Regions from separate parts of the Homo sapiens genome. Here region 1 is linked to region 2. Evidence: fine-mapped expression QTL. A gene starts in region 2. The other region holds a variant in brackets. All regions are shown on one strand. Distances are from middle to middle. Region 1 overlaps DNAI3 (dynein axonemal intermediate chain 3). Region 2 holds the start of BCL10 (BCL10 immune signaling adaptor).

What was found.
Region 1: its variant is fine-mapped to the expression of BCL10 in testis (GTEx, PIP above 0.99).

Annotation. Positions count from the first base shown.
Region 1 is chr1:85,088,449-85,096,448 of GRCh38, reverse strand. DNAI3 (dynein axonemal intermediate chain 3) reads right to left here. Exons shown (of 23, transcript NM_145172.5): 8 at 6,217-6,333; 9 at 2,801-2,991; 10 at 1,894-2,018; 11 at 429-518. Among named protein-coding and RNA genes, the nearest start is that of DNAI3, 30 kb to the right of the region's middle. The variant A/C (reference allele first, on the strand shown) is at 4,311.
Region 2 is chr1:85,271,488-85,280,022 of GRCh38, reverse strand. It overlaps BCL10 (BCL10 immune signaling adaptor), which reads left to right and starts at 3,391. Exons shown (of 3, transcript NM_003921.5): 1 at 3,391-3,727. The coding sequence starts at 3,671. It overlaps BCL10-AS1 (BCL10 antisense RNA 1), which reads right to left and starts at 3,665. Exons shown (of 2, transcript NR_045484.1): 1 at 3,226-3,665; 2 at 1,935-2,382. RefSeq lists enhancers at 323-382, 573-682, 3,091-3,793, 2,999-4,198.

The DNA.
Region 1 (8,000 bases), 180 kb after region 2:
TCTGCCTATAAATTCAGTGATGTGTGTATGCTTTCTAGTGAATTTCTGTTTAAGTTCTGGATCATCCCCTAACTCCTACTCCCAAGGAAATTTCAGAAGAGGCCTTTTTTTCCAAGAGGTAGTAATGCTTGTAGCTTTTGTTCTTCCATGGAATCTTATACAATATGTGGTTCAGTCCCAGCAACACAAATAGATTTCACCCAATTCTGTTTCAGTTTTGAAGCTGGGTTACCCCGTGAACACCTCAGGAGCTGATACCGTGTGTAACACGTCTCTATACCCTGCTTCCTGGTGTGGTGTCTGGCACACAATTGGCATGCCTTCCTTCTGCTGAATTGAATCCTTAAGTCCAAGGAACTGCCAAGTCAAAACTTATTACCAAAGGTTGTCTACATTAATACATAGCTGAAAAAAATTCTGTTAAGTACCTGCCCATTGATACAGCCTCCAGCAATGATATTAGGATCACTCGGACAGAACTTGAAGCAGAAGATGTCATCTGGGCTCTCCAGCATTAACTAAAGTAAACCCAGCAAATTCATGAAAGAATGAGAAAAGAGATTAAGATCATGGCGAGAAAATAATATTAAGACAGTTAAAAGTCTAATTTTATAGCTATCTATAAGCAAGGTGCGTAGAGAGTCTATTCTCAGAGTTCTGCCTCTGGACTAAAAGCTGCTTTTGCTTAATTTTATTGTGCACATTGGCCATACGAGTGACAGTGAGTATGTTCTCAAGGGGACCCAGGTATTCCCCAACCCACCCCTCAGTGGAAACAAATTGTAGTTATTTTGGGAGCATGTTACAATGTTTATAACAAAAAGACTATGAAATTAGTGTTCCTGAAAACCATGGAAGGGAAGCTCTGTGAGGACAGGATCTGTGTCTGTTTTGTTGCTTGCTGAATACTGAGCCAGGCACTCCTGGAGTGGAGAGGAGATCTACAGGGTAGAAAGGTTAGAAAACTCTAGTGAGAGAGTGGCTCTGTTTTTGTGGCTGACAAGAAAGGGCTAGAGATCTTTCAATTTGATCTCTGGGTCTATAATCATTAAAGTATCTAGAATCTATTACAGTAAAACTACCTTAATTCAAATGAATTGGGGAAAGGAAGAAGGGGAGGCTAGGGTTTTTTAGGGAAAGTCTTAATTATGAATACTTTTTAGAAACAAAATATTATTATATTTAAAACATTGAAATAACTTAATCTAACACTATACACCACCCACCCACTAGGCAGATCTCTTATTGAGCAGACCATGAAAACTAGAACCCTGTGTAGCAAACCCAGCCTTCAGCCTCATTTTATTTGAATTGCTATGTGTTTTGGTTGGTTTGAGTGGGGTTTTTGTGTGTTTTGGCTTGGTTTTAGTTGAGCTATTTAAAATTGGGCGATTTCATACAAAATTCCAAATTTCTCAATTCTCTTGACAATGGGACCACCTGGCAACAAGAGGGCAGCCAGCCTAGAGATGGATAATGCACTCTCCAAGGCCGCAGTCCCTACCACTCCCCAGTGCTCTCCCACACATTCACCTTTATTTATTACCCAGTGATCCTTGGAATTGAGGAAACTCATGTGAAACTAAAATCTATTTGCATTTGACCAATTAGTATTCAAGTAAAGTCCATAAAAGAGTTTGTTTTAAAAATAGTTTAAACATTCCTCTTACAATCTTTGAAAAAAATAGCATGTTGATTTGTTCAATAAACAAATTGTAAACTTTAGTTTTGCTCAAATTGAATGATGACAAGTTCTGCATTGAAGAAAGCCTAACTTTATAAATGTTTACAACATTACATGATTATAAAGTACTTTGCAATAAAAACTGCTAAAGGTATACATGAAAGTAGTATTTGAAAATTTAGGCTATGTAGGCAACTCTCCCTAATTACCTGAGGATGTATAGGATCAGAGAAGCTCCAGAAAAGAATCAGTGATGGCTGCAGCAATAATTTACCAGAAAAGTGAACTCTGTCTTCAAAAGAAAGTCGCACGGCTACCGACACAGCTATTAGCCCTGATGGAAACACATGTAGAAATTAAAGTTGGCAGCAACTATACATGGAGAGATGTCTCTAGCTTTTGCTTTTCTACACAGCCACTCTTCATTTACACTTTGTCCACAGGAGAGCAAGAGTTTTCTTAGAGCTCTGCTGGCTAATGTGGTTGCCACTAGTTACATGCTACTTATTTAGCACTTGAAATCTGGCTGGTCCAAACTGACATGTACTGTTAGTATAAAATATACAGGGGACTCAGAAGATTTTGGAAGAAAAGAAAATCTTGTTTTGTTTCTTTTTTGTGAGAAAAGGGCCAGTGTAGGGTGAAAGGAGGAAGAAAGAGGACAAATACCTCTCTCTTTCCATGTTTCCATCTTTGCACATCCCTACCTACCTCCCTTGGCTGCTGAGCTCTTTAAAGGAGGCACATTTCCTCTCTTGTCTAGTAATCAGAAAGGCAGTGTTAGGAGGAAGAAATTTAGCCTTGGGAGAGCAACAGGCCCAAGCCCAACCCAGACTCTGCCTTATGCCATCTGGGTGACCTGGGCGAGTCACTTCCCTGAGTTGAGCTTGGGTCCTTTTGTTGTGAAACAGAGATAATGACAGGTGTGTATCCTACAGGGTTGTTGGGAGGACACATGACAGTGAGGGCGTGGAAAGCACATGGCAGGTACCTAGTGAGTACAGAGCAAATGGAAGGTGTCTTATTGACATTGAACTAGTTTGCAATTTTACATATGAAAGCAACAGACAATTTCAATGTTATCACAAAAGGGAATCCCCATCATTTCCATCTCACCATAGATAGTTGGATGCCATGAGACACAGGTAATCATTTTCTCCGTTGGGCTATGAAGGTCGGTAAAGGACTGGTACTCTTTCAGGTGGGTATCGGTCTTGTCCCCAAAGGTGCCTTCTTCTTCTGCGAGGTATTTCCAGTCATCAATAAATGTGTTCATGATTTCATTTTGCTGCAGGGCTATTTCAACACTAATTTGTAAAAATAAAAAAAGCAATTAAGATATTGGTTTTTAGTATCCAATAATGTGACTATCTTAGCAACTCCTCCTCCTTCATTTATACTGAACAAAAAATAATAATTCTCAATTATATTTGGTGATAATGATTAACCTCATGTGAAATAAATGACTTAAGAGAAAAAAACATCATGGTGGCATGTTACTCAGAACCTCGAGCAACTTCATGATCTGCCTCAGTTTCCAAGCCAAGGCTGTACTCTCTCCAGGCCAATGCCTGAGCATGCAGCTGCAGGGATGGCTGGGCCTGGCCAGTCCTCCTTGTGCAGCACTCCCACAGCAGGCATCTTTGCTCTGGAGCTCCTGCTGAGTAGGCTGAGAATTTGTCTGATGCTCTACCTTCCCGGTCCTGTCTCCTCCTCCTTTATTTTTCACAGTGTAATCCTCAGTAAACGTCTGCCTCTAACTTGATGTCATTTGCTTCCTGGAAAGCCCCAACTGTCACAAATGGCAGTTTTCTTAGGCATATTCTGTACTAAATGATCACTTATCCTTAACAGGATAGCCCCAATACATATGTAATTCAAAACAACAAATAAGAGATTCTGAACAAGGGAAGAATTGGAGTTTAGAAGTGTGTGTGTGTGTGTGTGTGTGTGTGTGTGTGTGTGTGTGTAGTTTTAGTTGTCACAATGCCTGGGAGGTGCTACTGTGTTTAATTCCATTACCAAACCTCCTGCAATGCATGAGACAGTCCCCAAAATGAAAAATTATCCTGCTAAAAATACTAACATTGCTCCTTTAAGATACCATCTGAGTGCTAGGATCATTTGCTAATAGTCTAGGGACCTTGGTTTGACAGGCTCCTGTCTTAAAGTAGTTACTATGATAGTTATTGTCCCTTTTTATGCTTAGATCTGAAAGCTCTGCATACTCCCAAAGTTGCTAAGAGCCCTCCCACAATTAGAATGCCACCCAAGGTTTTACCCTACTGATCAAAACTGTAAACTTCTTGGTTTTATATAGGTGTGGTAAGTTGAAAAAGTGGTTCTCAATTGTGAATTTCTTAAAATAAGAAAAAATCCTTTAGATAGTTCAATATAAACAGTAAAAACAGATACTCCTAAAATATAAAAAAGGGCACCGTTTGATACCCCTGTCATTGATCATTACACTACCAGTCATTGCCTAATTGAGTCCTCCCTTGGTTAAATTCTTCTTGTATTTCATCTTTCAAAATAGACCCCTTTCCTAAGACCTGGCCACTTAAAGTGTGATCCAGTGACCACCAACATGACCTGGGGCTGTTAGAAATGCAGAGTCGCAGGCTCC[A/C]CCCGACTTACTGAGTCAGAACCTGCATTTTAACAAGAGTCCTCAGGTGATTCATAAGCACACTGAACATTGAATAACCCTGTGTAGCGGACTCTCGAGGCTTAAACAGTTTCCAGTAGAAGCATTAGTAAGCATTTTCCAAATCATATTTCTTTCTGGTTAAGCCCAAATGAGAAGGGAATTCTCAAGAGAAAAGTTAAAGACGTGGCTTCCGCTCTGGTTTCCTGATTCTACCTCCTTAGCCAGAACGGGGAAGTAATTCAAACGGAAGAAGTGAAAACACATCTTTCTTCTGGTTTCCGGTTTCTTGCTTTCCTGGAACCATGTAGCTCCCGAGAGTAACAAATTGGAGGCTAGCAAAACTGTTGTCTAGGAATTTTAACCCCGAAAGGAAGGTTTCTTAGTTGTTTTGTGAATCCCCCTGAAGTTCCTCTCTCTCATCTCATGTCATTGCCTTCTTTTGCAAATAATGCTTCCCTTAAGTTTGTTTTAGATAAAATTCTATGAGAAAGAAATTTCCCATTTCTAAAAGGGCTTTCTTCCAGAACAAAATCAGGCTTACCTTAATTAAAAACTATTGAATAAAGCTTAAGCAGTTTTAAAGCTGGAAGTTATGTTTGCAGTGATATAAACATGGGTTTCTTATCCACTCTGGGCCAGTGCTATTATAATTCCTGTGCCAATTTTCCTCTTTCTTCTTATAGATCTGGCTTCTCCTTCCCACATCTCAGGGATGGAATCATAAAGCTGTCCACTATTCTTTTCTTTATAAGCATGGAAATTCAGAGGGAAGAATAAAAGCCCAGGTCTAAAGATAATATACAATGTGGATTTATTTTGAACATTTTTTTATTCCCTCAAGATCTAGTTTTCTCTGGATATTGATTATATGTAAACAAACTTCTCATTTTGAATATTCTTACAGGAAAAATTGTAATGACTACTAAATTTTGATAAGGGGAGGGTGAAACTCAGGTTTTCTTGTTTCTATCTCATTGCCCGTATAGCAAAAATTATAGCATCCTTCCTGCGAGTGGCAAATAATGTTCTCTCTGAATCATTAACTGAATTTTTGAGCCAGAGTCTCCCTAGGCATAAGTAACAAGTTTGAGAGTTGTTGGAATTTTTAGGATATTTAATCCAGTATGAAAGAACCAACGACATTTCTTAAAAATAAAAAAGTTTAACTTGGGCTATATATGAACTTGACCACCAAGTTTTTAATTTTAGAAAGAAATAGAAACCAGCCTATTGAGTATAACTGGCAGACTTGTCCTCCAGTGGATCCACTTCTCTAAACTCTAGTATCAGCTTGGTGAGAACTTGTCAAGCTGTTTCTCTGGTTTAGAAGCCCCAGAACTCTACCCAGGGTCCTACTAACAGCTTAGGGGGCATTTTGAAGATGCTTCTCTTTCAAAGCCAGTAAGAGTGCAGGAACACAGGAATTGGTGATAAGAGTGAAATGTCCAAAAAGACATTTGAATTAAATTCAGGTTCTCATCTACAAAGATATTTTTGCAAATACTTATCATCATAATAATGGCCACAGCATTCTCCTCATCCTATAAAAAGTTAATGAGGAAGAGGAGTGAGGAGTGGAGAAAAAGAATTACGTAAAAGTAACCATGGTAAATACAAGTAAATGTTAATCTGCAATTAGGAAAACATCCTCACACACTCAACTCCTCACACAGTTTGATGTGGCCTTAGCTTGATAGGGCTAAGATGTTGCTTAGCAATAGAAAGGAAATAAATATTGAGAATCTGTAGAATGTGTCACACTGACAACTGTCTTCATACTTTTTATCTAGATACCCTATATGGAATTGTTTATTTAGACCTGTTATTCTATGTAAACATATACATTTTATGTTTTATTTTTAAAATTTAATATGCAATTTTTTACCTTATGGATGCATTGTTAAGAAAATCAACCAAAGGCTTTGATTGTTTGAGTGTCTCTTTTTCCTCTTCTGAGAATTCTCTTGGATAATATTGCGTAGTAGCATTTTTAGGATATGTCCTAATATATTAAAAGAAAATTCAATACTAAAGATTAGGTCAAAGAAGAGCAAATATGGGCCACAACAGGTCAAAAGTGTGTCTCTGTGACAATGATGTTAGGATATTATTTTATATTTAAATTATATACATTGAATTTTCTTTATCCTAGACAACTGATATTGACCACTATTCAAAGGCTACATGAATTTCTCTCCAACATAATCAAAAAAATCTTATTTTTGTAAAATTTTTACCTAGAAATCATTTCAAACTTATAGAAAAGTTATAAGAAGGGTATAAGGAATTCCCACACACCCTTCACCCAGATTCGTCAATTATTAACATTTTGCCATCTTTATTGTTTTCTCTCTCTCTTCATTTCACTAAGTCAGTGTCCACCTCACCCCCTCATGGGACATTTGGCAATGTCTAGAAACATTTTTGGTTGTCACAACCTAGACATGCTACTGGTGTCTAGTGAATAGATCCCAGGGATGCTGTTAAAAACCCTACAAAGCACAAGACAGCCTTCCCTCAAAGAGAATTATCCAGCCCCAAATGTCAATTTGTTGAAGTTGAGAAACTCTGCTCTAAACATACAAAACTAGGAATAAGATACATTTCAGCAGTGATGGTGGCAGGAAGTCTTGCTCCATCTAGTATGCTCTTAGTGGCCTCTGTATGTGAACACCTCATATGGCATTGTACCTCTGGGCTTTATCAATCTCAAGTATTAGACTGGGTGAGCCCTTGATCTTGGCATGTAGAGCTTGGAAAAGTCACAGGGCACAATCATTAAGAGTGTGGATTCTGGTGATTGGCTGCCTGGCTTTGAAGCCTGGTTCTATCATTTACTAGCTATATGACCCCTGAGCCAATTATCTAACCTTCTGTGCCTGTGTTCTCATCTCTAAATGAAATTATTCAAGTAGCTAGTTCATAGTGTCATTGTAAGGATTGAATGTGTTGATACATGCAAAACTTTAAAAACAGTGCCTAGCACATTTTAAATGATCAACAAAATATTATGTAGTATTTGTGTTTGTTGAACAAATGTCAGCACAATGCAGAATGTCTCTGTGAGAGGTAATATATTAAATGGAGAGTAATCAGACAAAGGGGTAAAGGGAGTTTTTAGAATAATTCATTTTTTTTCCTTGTTTAGGTCAGTATCCATAGCAGAAGGCAGAGTGGTAGAAAGAAATAATATTAGTATTGGAACCAGAGAGACTTGGGTTCAATTCTCAGCTTCACCTTTTAATTTCTGCTCTCTAGACAGGGTTAAGTAAAAAAAAAACAAAATGATATATTGCTTGGTGGTTTTATCAAAGTAGCAACATGCCTAAGAGTCACTCTTACTTTCGAAATATGATTTGTTTTGTTGTTTTTCAGCAAAACCATTCATTATTGCTTCAAGTTTAAATTATGCCCGAAACATTGGGCTTTCATTTTTAACCTCTCTTTGCTTCAGTTTCTCTATTTGTAAAATGGGGATAGTGCCTACCTCAGAGAGCACTTGTGAGGATTGAATTGATGTGTGTAAAGCACTTAGAAGAATGCCTGGTATGTGGTGGGAACACTAGGCATTTGCTTTCACTGTCATTATTCTTTGAACTTCATCTTTGATTTTTCTTGACTCCCTCCAATATAATCACATATCCTACTTTCTCTACCTCATACCAGCTA
Region 2 (8,535 bases):
GGGGAGTGCTCACCACTGCCCCCACCCTGGTCAAGCCATCCTAAGCTGTGCCTGGATGGCTGTGTGTAAGGAACATGGCTGTGCTTTGGTCAAGGATAGGACGAGGTAAACATCCACAGGGACTCAGCGAGTTTAGAGCGCAGGCATATAACTCCACTTGTTATCACAGCTATGTAGCCATAACATGGGAAGGCCATCCCTTGGCTCTAAGCCACTATTGTCTGTAAAAGGTATAATTGCCCTGTTGACATCGTGCAGGCGTGCTGACACCCAGAGAGAGAGAGAGAGAGCCAGAGTTGACCCTCTTGGAGACTGACAGTGGGGAGCCAGGACACAGCTCGGCTTGCTCATGCCCAGAGAGAGGAAGAGTTAAGCTGCTGACCCCGAAGGCAAGGGAGAGTCGGCCATGCAGCTGTGTGGGGGAGCCGCCAGACTAAGCACCTGAGACAGGGCAGACAGTGTAGAGAGCTAGTGTAAGAAAGCTGTTGATGAGAGCTGCTGCTGAGTAAAATCATCTTTTACCTGCCTACGGTCCCCTGAGTGTTCTTTCTGCTCATCCACCCACTCCCCTTGGACCTCAGCATGGGCTAGAACCTGACCCCAAGCATGACATTTGGCTCAGTCGTGAACCTGACATTGTGGTAGCCTCCACGTAGTCTCTGCTTCTTGCCCTTGCCCCTGCCATCTACTCTCCACTTAGCAGCCAGAGTGATCCTTTCAAAATGAAATCAAACTGCTTCCTTGCTTCATTTCAAAATGCTCCCACCACCCTCACTGCTCCACCCTGGTCTGAACCACAACCTCCTGGGGCCTGGATATAGCAATACCTCCCTAAATGGTTTTCCCTCTTCCATCTTCTTTCCCCTTAGCACAGAAGTGAAAGTGCTTCTTTTCAAATCACAAATCAGATCATGTCACTCTGCTCAGAACCTTCCAGTGGCTTCCCGTCTGACTCAGCACACCCATATGACTCAACACACAAGGAGATCATCTCCTTCCAGTTACACTGAGCATTTTTATTGGTTGCTGACTGTACTCATAATGCTCTCTCCTTATATCCACACGGTTCACTCCCTCACTTCCTTTAAGCATAAATCAAATCCCTTATCTTGGTATTGACAAGACAAGGACAGACTCCTCCAAAGTGAGCAGGGAGGTCATGACCACCCTAGCTTAAATTTTACCAATCCATACAGCCTCATCCTACTTCCCTGTTTTATTTTTTCCTCTTAGTATTTATCATCTTCTAATAAATTAAATAACTTAGATATAGCCAGGCGTGGGGGATCATGCCTGTAATCCCAGCACTTTGGGAGGTTGAGGTGGGCAGATCACCTGAGGTCAGGAGTTCGAAACCAACCTGGCCAATGTGGTGAAACCTTGTCTCTACTAAAAGTACAAAAATTAGCTGGGCGTGGTGGTGTGTGCCTGTAGTCCCAGCTACTCAGGAGGCTGAAGCAGGAGAATCGCTCGAACCCGGGAGGCAGAAGTTGCAGTAAGCTGAGATGGTGCCATTGCACTCCAGCCTGGGAAACAGAGTGAGACTCCGTCTCAAAAAAATAAATTAATTAATTATTTTTTTAAAATAACTTAGATATAGCCGGGTGTGGTGGCATGCGCCTGTAATCCCAGCTACTGGGGAGGCTGAGGCAGGAGAATCACTTGAACCTGGGAGGAGGAGGTTGCAGTGAGCAGAGATCGTGCCACTGCACTCCAGCCTGCGTGACAGAGCGAGATTCTGTCTCCAAATAAATAAATAAATAAACTTAGATAAAATTTTTCAAGTGCCTACCTCGTCTGCCCCAAACACAAATAAACTAGAATATAAATTCCATGAGGAAAGAGATTTTTATTGGTTTTGTTCACAGCTGTTTTCCTAGCACCTAGAACAGTGTCTGGCACATAGTGGACATTCAAAACACATTTGTTAAATGAAAGGATTCATCCTAAAGTTAAGGATGGTTCAGTAAATCGGATGGAAGATGATGAAAAATTAAGCAATTAGAAAAAAACTGTCCTTGTGTAATGTGTCAACATGGAAACAGGACATAATGTAAACATCAGAATCCCTTGCTGTGATTCTGGTTTTTGTGGCTCTGGTTACATTGTTTTTTTGTGTGTGTTTTTTTTTTTTTTTGCTTTCCCGTTTCTTAAACATTGGCGTTCCCAAGTTTCTCCTTGGTCCTCCTGTCATTTTTATCTACTCTCGTAGCTTCAAATACCATCTAGTTTATAGTTTATTTAGCATGTTGTCCAAGCCACCGTCTTGGGCCCAGGGCTCTACCTGTAGCTTTTCATCCACACTTCTCAGGTTGCTTCTTACACAGCGCCATAGTAGTTAAAATACGGTCTGGGGATAGTCGTCTCTTCATCAGTCTCCCCCTATAAAATGGAGGACTCATAGTATAAGTTGCCTAGAACATATTAGTAAGGACTCAATAAATGTTTGAGTAGGATGAGCTGGGTGGCTCATGCCTGTAGTCCCTGCACTTTGGGAAGCCGAGGCGGGTGGATGGCTTGAGCCCAGGAGTTTGAGACCAGCCTGGGCAACATGGCGAAACTCCATCTCTATAAAAAATACAAAAAAACTAGCTGGACTCCCAGCTGCTTGGTGGCTGAGGTGGAAGGATCGCCTGAGCCCTGGAGGTGGAAGCTGCAGTGAGCCGAGAATCGCACCACTGCACTCCAGCCTGGGCGACAGAGTGAGATCCTGTCTCAATAAATAAATAAATAATCAGTTGAGTGCATACTGTGTGCCCAACTACCTTTAAGAACTTTACATATGATCCCGGCAGCCCTAAAAGGTAAGCATATCTATCTCCATTACACAGATTAACTAATGAGGAAAAGCTATGTTTATAATGAACAGTGACCAAAAAGTATGCAAACGTTAAATGAGGTGTTAAAGTGGTGGGATTGTAGGTGGTTTCTTTTTTTCTTTCAAAAATTTGTTTAGTATTGTAGTTAGGCTGTTTGTGTGTATGCATGTGTATGTGTGTATGAGTGCGTTTGTGTGTGACCAAAACAGTAACTGGCAAACGTAACAACAGGAAATTGTAGGGCAGGGTCTGGGAAAAGGGGAGGAACCCAAGGTACTGACAAGCCCAGACCGGACTCCCCCGAAGTGAGCAGGCAGCAAAGGCTGAGAGTGCCAGCTGCCTGGGCACTGACGGACCCCACCCACGGAAACGATGCCTTATGAGGAAGCTAACCCGGGCCACTTACCGACGACCTGCGCAGGCGTGGCTTGAGGAAACGCCCGCTGTGGGCGGAGCCACCCGAAAGGCTCCGGTCGGGGGCGGGAACAGGATCGGCCCGCGGGCTGGCGTCGATAGGCTGCCGCAGAGACAGGGCGGGCTCTGCTAAGCGACGCGCCTCGCCGTGGGGCGGTGCCTGCGCCTGAGCCTCTACGAGAGGGAAGGAACGCTGCTCCGAGCTCCGCGTCGCGTCGCGTAGATTCGCGTCGCCGTCGACCTCAGAGGCGGGGCCGGAAGCGCTACGGTTTGACCCCCGAGTCCCTCTGTTCCCGAAGGGGCGGCCGTCTTTCTCCCGACCCGCTCCGCCTCCTCTCCTTCTTCCCCATTACCCGGAGGCCGAAGCCCCCAGCCAGGGCGGGGCGGCGCAGCCCGAGCTCCCGGACCCGGAAGAAGCGCCATCTCCCGCCTCCACCATGGAGCCCACCGCACCGTCCCTCACCGAGGAGGACCTCACTGAAGTGAAGAAGGACGTGAGTAACGCAGCTGTGCCCAGGGCGGGCGGGGGCGGGCTGCAGCCCAGCGGGAGACGAAAGCGGAAGCCTGGAGTCCGAGGACAAGGAGGATCCTCCAGGTCGGAGGAGCGGAAAGTCCTAGCACAGGAGGACTGTGGCGAGCCCTGCATCCGAGGGACCTTGGTGGCAGTGATCCTCCAGTGATCTGTCAATCCAGGTTTTACATCGCTAAACGCAGAGCTTGGGCTTTGTTGCCAAGTGGTGTTTTGATTCTTGCCCACTCCTCACCCATCTCCTCATGCTTTCCCCCCAACTGGGTTCTTGGAGATGCTTCGTTAGGGACTGGCGGCTCAGATTCATCCTTAAGTCAGGCTGCCTAGGCTGCTCACTCAGCCTAGAGCGAAGGCTGTACCAGGTGAAGGATCCCAAGCAGTGGACCAAAAATGTGAAGCTCTTTTGCATAAGGGGGCTTGAGGAAGCTCAACAGCTGAAAGCACAACCTGGAATTCCCCTAGTAAGCAGACGCCCACATATTTAAATTGGGGTTGGGGGAGTGAATACACGTAGCTGAGAATTAATGTACAGGTAAACGTCGAAAATATTCAGTAGCTAAATTATGCTCTTCTCGGATGGTGCAGAACCACATAAACCTTCATATTTATTCGTAACGAATGGCTTTGTTGAGATATGACATTCTTTTTCCTTTGCGTTTACTTGTTTTGTCAGATGAGACCTATATGAGTATCACTAAAATACTTTATCTGAAGTCAAATGAAAAACAGAAACTCAACATGAAACGTGTTCTTATTGAACACTGCAGTACTTTTACAAAGTCATTTTGATGAACTGGACAGGATGGCAACTTTTTAAATGTTCATCCACTTCAAATCCCTTCCTCTTCCCTGTAAGGTTTATTACACTGTACTCACAATTGGTGTGACTCACCAGCAGAAGGAAACTGGATATGACTGGGAGTTGTGCTTAGTTTCCTCATTCAACAGAGATTTATGGAGCACTTGCTATATGGAAAGCACTGGCCTTGGGTCTGGAAGGATACAAAAAAATGAAGATCAGTTTCCTGCTTTACATTCTAGTTGAGATAAGAATGGAACATAAATAACTACTGTAGAATAAATGTTGTCTTATTCATGGTGAGTGCCAGTAAAACCTTGAACTTCCAAGAGCTAGGCCTCCTATGTTCCAGATGCTGTGTCACACAGTTTACAATGTTCCCACTTAACCTTCGCAACAACCTCTAAAGAAGATAATTGCCATTCCCATTTTACAGCTAATAAAACAGGAACTGAGAAATTACAAGTGGAAGGAAATAAGATCTGTATACAAGTACAGATGTGAAGAGTGGCTTCCAGGTCTTTGTTCTTCTCTGTCAATTCATTGATGTTATCTGTCTTCAGGATTTCATTTTACGCCTATATCAGAAATAAATAACCTTGAGGAAACCATGGATGGGTTTCAAAAGGTCTATGAAAGAAACTATGTGCATGCTTTTTTCTTAGAGGTTTTTTTCATGATATTTTCAAAATGTCTTCTGATCTTAGAGAGTTTTAAAATTATCCACATATTTGGACTTTTCTCTCCACTCTAGGTCCTTATTTCCAAATGTCTACTGGAAATCTACTTTTATATCCTACAGATTGCTCACCTTGTCAAATATTGAACTTTTACTATCCTTTTCCCAAAGTTGCTTACTGTTGCTGCTGTATTGCCTTTCTTGATGAATGGTGTGCTACCACCCTTTGTCTTGGGACCTCCCACTTCTTTAGTGTCTCCCCCTCCTCCTATCTAGTTATTTGCCTCATTGTGTTAGTTGGATTTAGTACAGTTTAATAAATATGGATTACATGCTACTGTGAGGCTGATACTGTGGTTGGTTCTAACAGTTCAAAAATTAAAAATGAAAACACAATCCTAACTTGAAAAGAGCTCAATTTCTTGAGGGGGATTGTTTTAAATCACAAAATAAGTGCAGTGAGTTTTGCATTCAACTGAAACATTAACTACTTGGTGCCCTAGTAAGTGCAGGATATACAGTGTTGGCTAAAACATACCTCGTAGCTGCCTGCTTCAAACAGAGACGTTAGTTTAAAACAAATAAATAAATTTTGTTTTCATTATTGCAATTACTATGAAGGAATCAAACAGTGCCAAGACAATAATAGGGGAAATCGACTTGAGATAGGATGGTCAGGAGAGGTTATATTTAAACTGATTCCTGAAAGATTTGACAGAACTGAGGGAAGAGCATTCTGGGCAGAATAGAATTTGTCAAGGACCTAAAATAGGCAAGACCCTGGTGACTTGGGGAAATCGGAGGAAGGCAGAGGGTAATCTGAAGTGAAGTTAGGAAGGTGGGCTAGAGCCATTTTCATGAAGAGCCTTTTAGTAAAGTATCTGGGGTTTTTTTCCCCCCAAGTATAGTAGGGACTTGTTGAAGAATTGTATAGTTTAAAGATCCCTCTGCCTGTTTCATGGACTGAGGAGAACAAGAATAAGAACAGGGAAGCCAGTGAGCAGGCTCTTGGAATCTATAGAGATGAATGAGGATGGTGATTTGGATCAGGGTGAAGGCAGTGGAGATGAATGGAGCAGAATTCCAGATGCAGTTTTTGAAATAGAAATGATATGACCTGGTGATGGATTGAACATGGGAGTTGAGGAAGAGGATGTAATTAGATTAGTACATGGAAATGTCAGATCAGCAATTACATCTGCAAAGTCAAAGATCAGAAGAGAGATCTGAGCTAGAAATGTAAGTGTGGAATTGAATGATTTTACCTAGAAAGCTGTGAGCTAGAAGAGAAAAATGGTGTAAAACCCTTTAAAGAGAAGAATTTTAAAAAGTGAATTGTTAGCTTGAAAGTAGGGTAACAACAACAACAAGAAAATGATTGAAAAGTTGTATCCACAGGGATGGGAAGAAAACCAGGAGAGTGTGGTATTCATGTAACAATTTTCTTGTTTCAGGGAGGGAGTAGTCAACTGTGTTTATGCAGCTGAAAAATGAAATGAAGACTGAAAATATTTGGCAATAAGGGGGTCATTGGTGACTTCGAGAAGAATACTGGGGCAGGATGGAAATGTCTGGGAATGAATTGGGAAATGAGGTGAAAGAAGTGGAGTCCTGGTGTATAGAAAGATGAAGTGTATACACAAGGTGCTACAAGGACAGAGGACGGGGTGCCTAACTCATTCTGGGGAGTTAGGTAAACCTTTCCAAAGAAGATGACCACTGACCTAAATCTTAAAGGACGAATAGGGGCTTTAGGGTCTGATAAAAGCAGACAAAAAATACGTAAGGAAATGTAGAGAGACAGATAGTTTTAGGTAGAGCATAAATTTTCAGGACAAAGGTAGTGATAGATTAAGCTGGAGAGGTAGGTAGGAGCCATATTATCAATGAACCTTGTCTTCCATAATTAGTTATTATTGAGTACTTACTGTGTACAGAGACTATGCGTGGCCTTCATATATAGTATTCCCATTTAGTCCTCCTTGATGTCCTGTGAGTTAAGTTTTTAATCCTTATTTTATCAATAACATACCTGGAGCTTGGAGTGGTGAAGTAACTTGGCCCAGCTCTCACAAGGGTGAGTACTAGATTCAAGATTTGCACTGAGGTTGATCCAACTTTAGAGCCATGCCCTTAACTTTTCTACTCTTCTGCCACGTAAAGGAACTTTATCCTTTAAGACAGGGCAGAACATTGTTTTTAATTTTTTTTCTAAATTAACAAAATTTCAATATTAGAATTTGCTGGGCACAGTGGCCCACACCTATAATCCCAACAACTCAGGAGGATAAGGTGGGAGGATCACTTAAGGCCAGGAGTTCAAGACCAGCCTAGGTAATGTAGCAAAGATCCCTTCTCTACAAAAAAAAAAAAAAAAAATTAAAAATTAGCCGGGCATGGTGGCTCACACCTGTAGTCCTAGCTACTCAAGAGGCTAAGATGGGGATCACTTGAGTCTAGGGATTCCAGGCTGCAGTGAGCTATGATCAAGCCACTGCACTCCAGCCTAGGTGACAGAGTGAGATCCTTAAAAAAAATTTAGTAAAATTCATATAATACTCCAGATTTCCATTTTCTCCTGAAGGAGAAATGTTGAGGAGGGGGAAGGAAGTAGTAAGTGCAGCTAGGTTTCTATTGTTAATAGTCCATGCCAGATATGATAAGGACCAGGTCCTGGACATAGTTATTTGCTCACTCTGTGCTTTTCCTGTATTTGACCTATAATCTTTTTTTTCTGGGCCCGATCACATTGTTTTATAATTATTACCTGTGATATGTATTCCCAGCTAGACCATGAGCCCTTTGCATGTAGGATTCAAATCTTGTTCATCTTTGTATACTCAGTGCTCAGCACTCGGCATATTAGGAATTTAGATTTGTAAAATACTTGTCATGTGAATAAACAAGTAAATGTGGAACTTCGTAGACCAAGAACCACAGGAACCCTTCACCTAGCCTACTTTCCTGCCATTACCTTTGTCATTATTACTAACATATATTGATCACTTACTATGTACCAAGCGCTTTTCTAAGCACTTTGCATATCTTTATTCCTCATATAACAGTCAGCTGAGGAAACAAGCACAGAGGAGTTAATTACTTGCCCAAGATCATATATCTAGTAAATAGAGGAGCTAAAATACAGTCACCGGTACCAAATTATTAATGCCATTTATTGAGATCAACATGGATTTTCTACTAATTAAGCTCTTAGGCACTTCTCAAATCTAGGTTTGCTTTTTTGTGGTGTCCTTTTTCTTTATTTCTTTCATTTTTCGAACACTCCCTATTCCCC